2 separate regions of the Homo sapiens genome follow, and region 1 is linked to region 2. Evidence: fine-mapped expression QTL. A gene starts in region 2. The other region holds a variant in brackets. All regions are shown on one strand. Distances are between the middles of the regions. Region 1 overlaps ABCC3 (ATP binding cassette subfamily C member 3). Region 2 holds the start of ABCC3 (ATP binding cassette subfamily C member 3).

Region 1 (2,831 bases), 44 kb before region 2:
CCACGCCCAGCTATTTTTTTGTATTTTTAGTAGAGATGGGGTTTCACCATGTTGGCCAGGCTGGTTTTGAACTCCCGACCTCAAGAGATCCACCCACCTTGGCCTCCCAAAGTGCTGGGATTACAGGCATGAGTCACTGTGCCCCGCCTCCTGCAAGGTTTTAAGTGCTCAGTGCAGGCATGAAGAAGGCAGATTGGTGGGCTCAGCTGGGGTGGGTTTTGGAGGTGAGTACAACTGAGAGAGAAGAAAGAGAAGGGCAAGGCAGGTGAGAGCGTTTGTGTTGGTGGAGCATAGACTCTAGGCTGGCCGGGGAGGGAGGTGAAGGCAGAGAAGCTGATGGACAGAGACACAAAGGGGGGTCATGGGATTGGGAGTCCCAGTGAAGGCAGACTGCTGTGACAGTGGGGGACTTGGAGCATGAGAGCGAGCAGGATAGGAGCGTGGGCCAAAGATGGGATGCTTGACACTGATGCTGCAGCTTCTGGGCATGAAGAGGGCTAAGGTGTGACCATGAGAGGGGGCGGTGGAGAAAAGTCTGGAACCCCCAGTAGGGAACAACTCCTTTTCCCCAACAAAGGGCATGCTGCCCCACCTCCACTCCTTTGCCCAGGCTGGTCTCTTTGGCTGGAATGCTCACCTTCCCACTGCCCACCCCACCATCTTACTTAGTCTATCAAAGCCTGTCCATCCTTCTCATCTAAGCTCGTCTCCCCTGGTCACCCCAGCTGAAGGATCTCCCTCATCTGCCCTCTCCAGGTGCACCACGCCAGAGATCTGGTCATCCACTGCAAAGCCCTGCAATAGGTCTTACCCCTCCCACCAAATCAGAATCACCTAAGGGCAAACACCGTCTTGCTCAACTCTGATCTCTCTACACCTCCTAGCATAGAGCATTGGTTGATGCTCAGTAAGGAGTGAATGGGTAAATGAATGAAGAGCCCCATACGTGGCAGGCCCTGATGTTGAGGGAGAGAGAGCCACCAAGCTTTCTTCCCCAGCTACTTCAGATTCCCCCTGTCCCGGGCTCATGCCAGTACCCACCTCTGTCTCTGTCTTGGAGTACTCCTTGACCCTCTCCACAGCCACGATGTTAGATTCCAAATCTGACATCATTCGTATCATCCAGTTCAGAGCAAATGTCACCTGGCCAAAGGGACTGGGTTATACGTATGGCGATCTCCCCTCCCCACCGTAATGGCTTTGGGAGGAGTTCAGACTCCTGGATCATGTGCCCATCCATGGGATCCTAGCCCATGGATGACCCAGGTGGGCCTGGATCAAGCCCACAGGCATGCCAGCTGGGGCTGTAATCACGAATGACTCCCTTGGGCAGTGACAGTGCAGACTTAACCAAGGACCACCTC[G/A]CCTTGGTTTCTGTTTCTCCAACTTTAATATGTATAAGACTTCCCAGAGAATCTTGTTAAAATGCAACGCCGGATTCTGTAGTCTGAGGTGGGACTTGGAACCTGAGATTCTTCATTTCTAACAAGCTCCCAGAGGATGGTGATGCAACTGGCCCATGGGCCACACTTTGCGTACCAAGGAGTCTTGATCAAAGTGCAGAGTCCTGAGCCCCATCCTAGGTCTACTGAATCAAAATGTACATTTTAACAAGTAGATTCATGTGCACACTGACCTTTGTGAAAATTGACCTTTCTGGATTGTTTTTTGTTTGCCAACGCGTTCAAGGTTTGAGCCACCTGAGGTATTAACAATGTGATCTGCTTTACAAAAATTCCGTTTGCAGTTAGGTGACTCTTTGACAGTACAAGCTGGCATCAGGATGACCTGCCTGACCTGCAGACCAGGCTTCAGTCACCTCGTCTGTGTACGTTCTCTGCAAGCATGTGAACGTGAGCGAGCGGTATGCCAGCCCTACACTGTCCTGACCTGTCACATGAGCCTACAACTTGCCCAGAGACAAGAGAAATTCTGTTTGTCCTTTGGGGCTAAGCTCCAAGATCATTTCTACAACACCCCAAAGCAAGAAAACTCCTCTGGACTTTTTTTTTTTCTCTCTTGAGATGGAGTCTCGCTCTGTCACCCAGGCTGGAGTGCAGTGGCGTGATCTTGGCTCACTGCAACCTCTGCCTCCCAGGTTCAAGCTATTCTCCTGCCTCAGCCTCCTGAGTAGCTGGGATTACAGATGCCCGCCACCACGGCTGGCTAATTTTTGTATTTAAGTAGAGATAGGGTTTCACCATGTTGGCCAGGCTGTTCTGGAGCTCCTGGCCTCAGGTGATCCGCCCACCTCCGCCTCCCAAAGTGCTGGGATTAGGTGTGAGCCACTGCACCCAGTCCCTCTTCTGGGCTTTTAAAACATTTTGTTTCTCCAGCCACAAAGACCTGCTCAGCCTGCAGCACAATCTCCTGCTGATGGGGGTCTCTCCAGTTGAACTGTGAGGTGTCAGGCAAGGTCGACGGCTGAGCAGGAGAGAGATGTGGGGTTTGAGGACAGAGATTATTCAACAGAATTCTTTCTGAATGTGAGAACATGGGCTTCTTGGGGAAGGAAAGTAGGAACATCCAGCCATGGTGTGTGGTTATAAACTTGTCAACTCAATGATTTTTTTCTTTTTTTTTTTTTCTCACAGTCCTTGAGAACAGACCCTGTGGCTGGTGCCCATACTGAGCAGGGAGGGGCACTCGGGAGATGCCTGGAACACCTGTGTGGTTTCTGTCCCAGTGGTGGCCCTGCCCTGGGGTCCAGGCCCTTCATACCTGCAAGGAGTAGGACACAGAAAGGCCCACCAGCCCCGGGTTCAGGCTGCTCCTCCCGATGACGGCAAATAGTGCAGCAAAGAGCACCACGCAGTTCCCCACGAACTCCA
Region 2 (2,903 bases):
ACCAGCCTGGCCCAAAGGGCAGTGAAAGGAAGTGTGCTCATGAGGCAAAGGCACAACCTCTGGACCCTGGTGGCAAGTGGCCTGTCCATGCTGAATAATACATGAAGTTCCTGTGGGACTGGGAAAGAAGGGCAGTGGCAGAGAAGTTGCACCATCTCGGATTAACCTTTGGGTCACCCACAGAAAAAGAGAGAATCCCAAATATGCCTTTTTACAGTTTTTTTTTTTACCTCCATTGCCCCAAGTTTCAAAAAATCCATATAACGCCTTCAGCCCATTCTAAACACAGCCCAAGAGCATAGCTCCAGACTTATACACCTGTGCACACACGTGCACAGCACGAACTCTTGGGTAACACCCCACGTGCCTGCGTGTGTGCGTACACACACAAAGGGCATATATGTACAAATACTCAAAATAGGAAAAGACTTAGAGATTGGGATTCACAAGCCCTGGACACCCCTTTAATGACCACAGAGAAGCACCTTTAATCTGAGCTCCCTCTGTAAAACGGAGACCACATGATCACTTGCCTCATAGAGGCAAGTAAGTTTTGCAAGTTGGTAAGAAAGCTCCTAGGCTGTATGCACTTAGCTCACCTGAACTGTGCTGGAGGCTGGAGTCAGCAGGCTGAAGAGCAGCCTGTCTTAGAAAGAGATTTGGAGTGAGAGTCACCAAAGGCTTGATTTTCTTTTCTTATTTATTTATTTTTTTAGAGACAGGGTCTCACTCTTTCGCCCAGGCCACAGTGCAGTGGTGCGATCATAGCTCACAGTAATCTAAAACTCCTGGGCTGAAGTGATCCTCCCACCTCTGCCTCCCAAAGGGTGGGATTACAGGCGTGAACCACTGCACCTGGCCTGTAGCCTGTTTTTCTATCCCAGCTCTGCCTTCATTGAACTGGGTAACTTTGGGCAAGTCCCTTCCTCTCTCTGGGCCTCCCTTTCTCCATCTGTGAGAAGGGAGTTGGACTACAGGAATCCTGACACCCTGCACCTGTCTCCAGACTGGGGTCTGCTTCTCCCTTCTGAGTCCGGAGTGGTGGGGATGGCCTGCTCTCAGACCTCAGTCTTACCTAGAGAAAAGAAGGTGGCAGGAAACCTTCCTAAGAAGGGTGGGACACTGCACAGCCGGCCTCCCAAAACACCTGGTTGAGCAGGTGCTCTGGATGCCCTGGGGGCAATCCATGCCCAGGTGGGCAACCGAGTCCTAACCTGAGGCAGATGCTGAGGGAAGACCCTCCATCAGGAACCCGCGGCTGATTGCGAAACGCCCCTTCCGCACCCGACGGAGGGGCTGGGATGGAGCCGACTCACCCAGCCACGCACTGTGCCTTTGCGCCCCAGCCGCGCACTCTTCCTCACTTTCCCGGGCTCCCCAGTGCTGCAGCCGGGAAGGGCAGAGCAGGGCAGGTCCCCGACACCGCGTGGGACCCGGCTCCGGGCGGCGCAGCCAACCTCCCTCCCGAGCCCATCGCCCCCTCCCGGGCGCCCAGGCCGTCTCAGGGGCTCCGTCCCGGGATACCTGCCGGCCCCGCGGGAAGGCAGGCGGCGGGGACCGGGCGAAGCCGGCCGACCCTGGCCCCCGCGCAGTGACCCCGGAGCCCCGCGCCTTACCCAGAACTTGGAGCCGAGCTCCCCGGAACCGCACAGGGCGTCCATGGGGCCGAGGCGCGGCTGCAAGGAAGGCGAGCGCGGTCGGACCCAGCGGCGGGCAGAGCGGGCGCCGGAGCCGCCTCCGCCCTCCGCACCCCGCGCTCCGCCCGGACCCGCCCTGCCGAGCCCTACCCCAGTGCCTCTGGGTCCGGTCTCCCTGCCCCCGTCCCGCGGGTTGCGACAGCGCCTCCCTGGGAGGGACTTTGGGGCAGAGGTGGGGGGGCCCTTGGCACGGCGACAGCCCCTGCGAGCGGCCCCTGGGCCAAGCCAGGGGGATGTCTCTCTAAATACCGAGGCTAACAGTCCAGGAGTCGAGTCTATTTCCAAGGGGGAACTGGGATACACAGGCGCTCCCACTCCCGAACAAGTCCGTGGGGCCGATGAGTCATTGAGTAGGGGACGTAGGGAGAGGGATTTAACAATCTTTCCTAGTAAAAAAGGAATCTTTGAGAAGGTCACGTTCCTCTCCGGAGGTCAGTTTCCTCATCTGTAAAATGGGAAGGGCTTCTGTGCTCAATCAGGAAGCTGACCTCTTCCCCATCAGGTTCCAGAGACCACTGGCAGGCGCCACACGGGGAGCACACGGGGTGTGCTCCGCGGGTGTGTACCCGTGAGGCGGGGGTGGGGGCCGCAGCATCGTCCAGCGGGGGCCTCTTATGTCCTCTTAAACTGCTGCCCTCTTAGGCTCTGTGGCTCCCTGACCTTGCCACATCACCTCGGCACGTCTCTGGGCCTCTACTTTCACATCCGTAAAATAGAGACAATCATAGAAGAGAATCTTCCTCCCAGGGTTCTCTGAGGATTGAATGGAAAGGGTAGGCAAAGCGTATTTCCTGGCACACTTAGTGGGCACCCAACATGTGTGAATTCCCTCTGCTTCAGCCTGATCAGGGTTGGGGGGGGAAGGACAGGTGAAGCCCCAGGAGGAGCCCCACGTGAGTGTCCTCGTCCTCGTCCTCCTCCTAAGGCTGAAACTCTACATTCCTGATCTGTAAAATGGGCTTGTCAGTGCTCTCCTTCTCCTGCTTGCCTCAGCTCTCCTTCTCCCGGTATCCCCTCAGATGCGGGGATCCCTCCATCTCTCAATCCCGCTGTTGCCCTGTCTTCCTTAACACAATCCCAGACGCCAACTCAGCACCGCTTGTTGGGGCTCAGAAGGAATTCTCCCTGGCAAATCTTTCCCTGGCCCTTCTCTTCCCTGCCTTTGCCCACAGGTCTGTCCAGTTTCACCCCGGTGACCCCTTTTCT

What was found. PIP is the estimated chance that this variant, and not a neighbour inherited with it, causes the effect.
Region 1: its variant is fine-mapped to the expression of ABCC3 in whole blood (TOPMed, PIP above 0.99). The same link has a PIP of 0.9 or more in blood mononuclear cells and monocytes.

The regions. Positions count from the first base shown.
Region 1 is chr17:50,678,110-50,680,940 of GRCh38, reverse strand. It overlaps ABCC3 (ATP binding cassette subfamily C member 3), which reads right to left. Exons shown (of 31, transcript NM_003786.4): 25 at 2,722-2,831; 26 at 1,042-1,143. Among named protein-coding and RNA genes, the nearest start is that of ANKRD40, 28 kb to the left of the region's middle. The variant G/A (reference allele first, on the strand shown) is at 1,365.
Region 2 is chr17:50,633,695-50,636,597 of GRCh38, reverse strand. It overlaps ABCC3 (ATP binding cassette subfamily C member 3), which reads right to left and starts at 1,717. Exons shown (of 31, transcript NM_003786.4): 1 at 1,617-1,717. The coding sequence starts at 1,661. RefSeq lists a silencer at 1,698-1,747.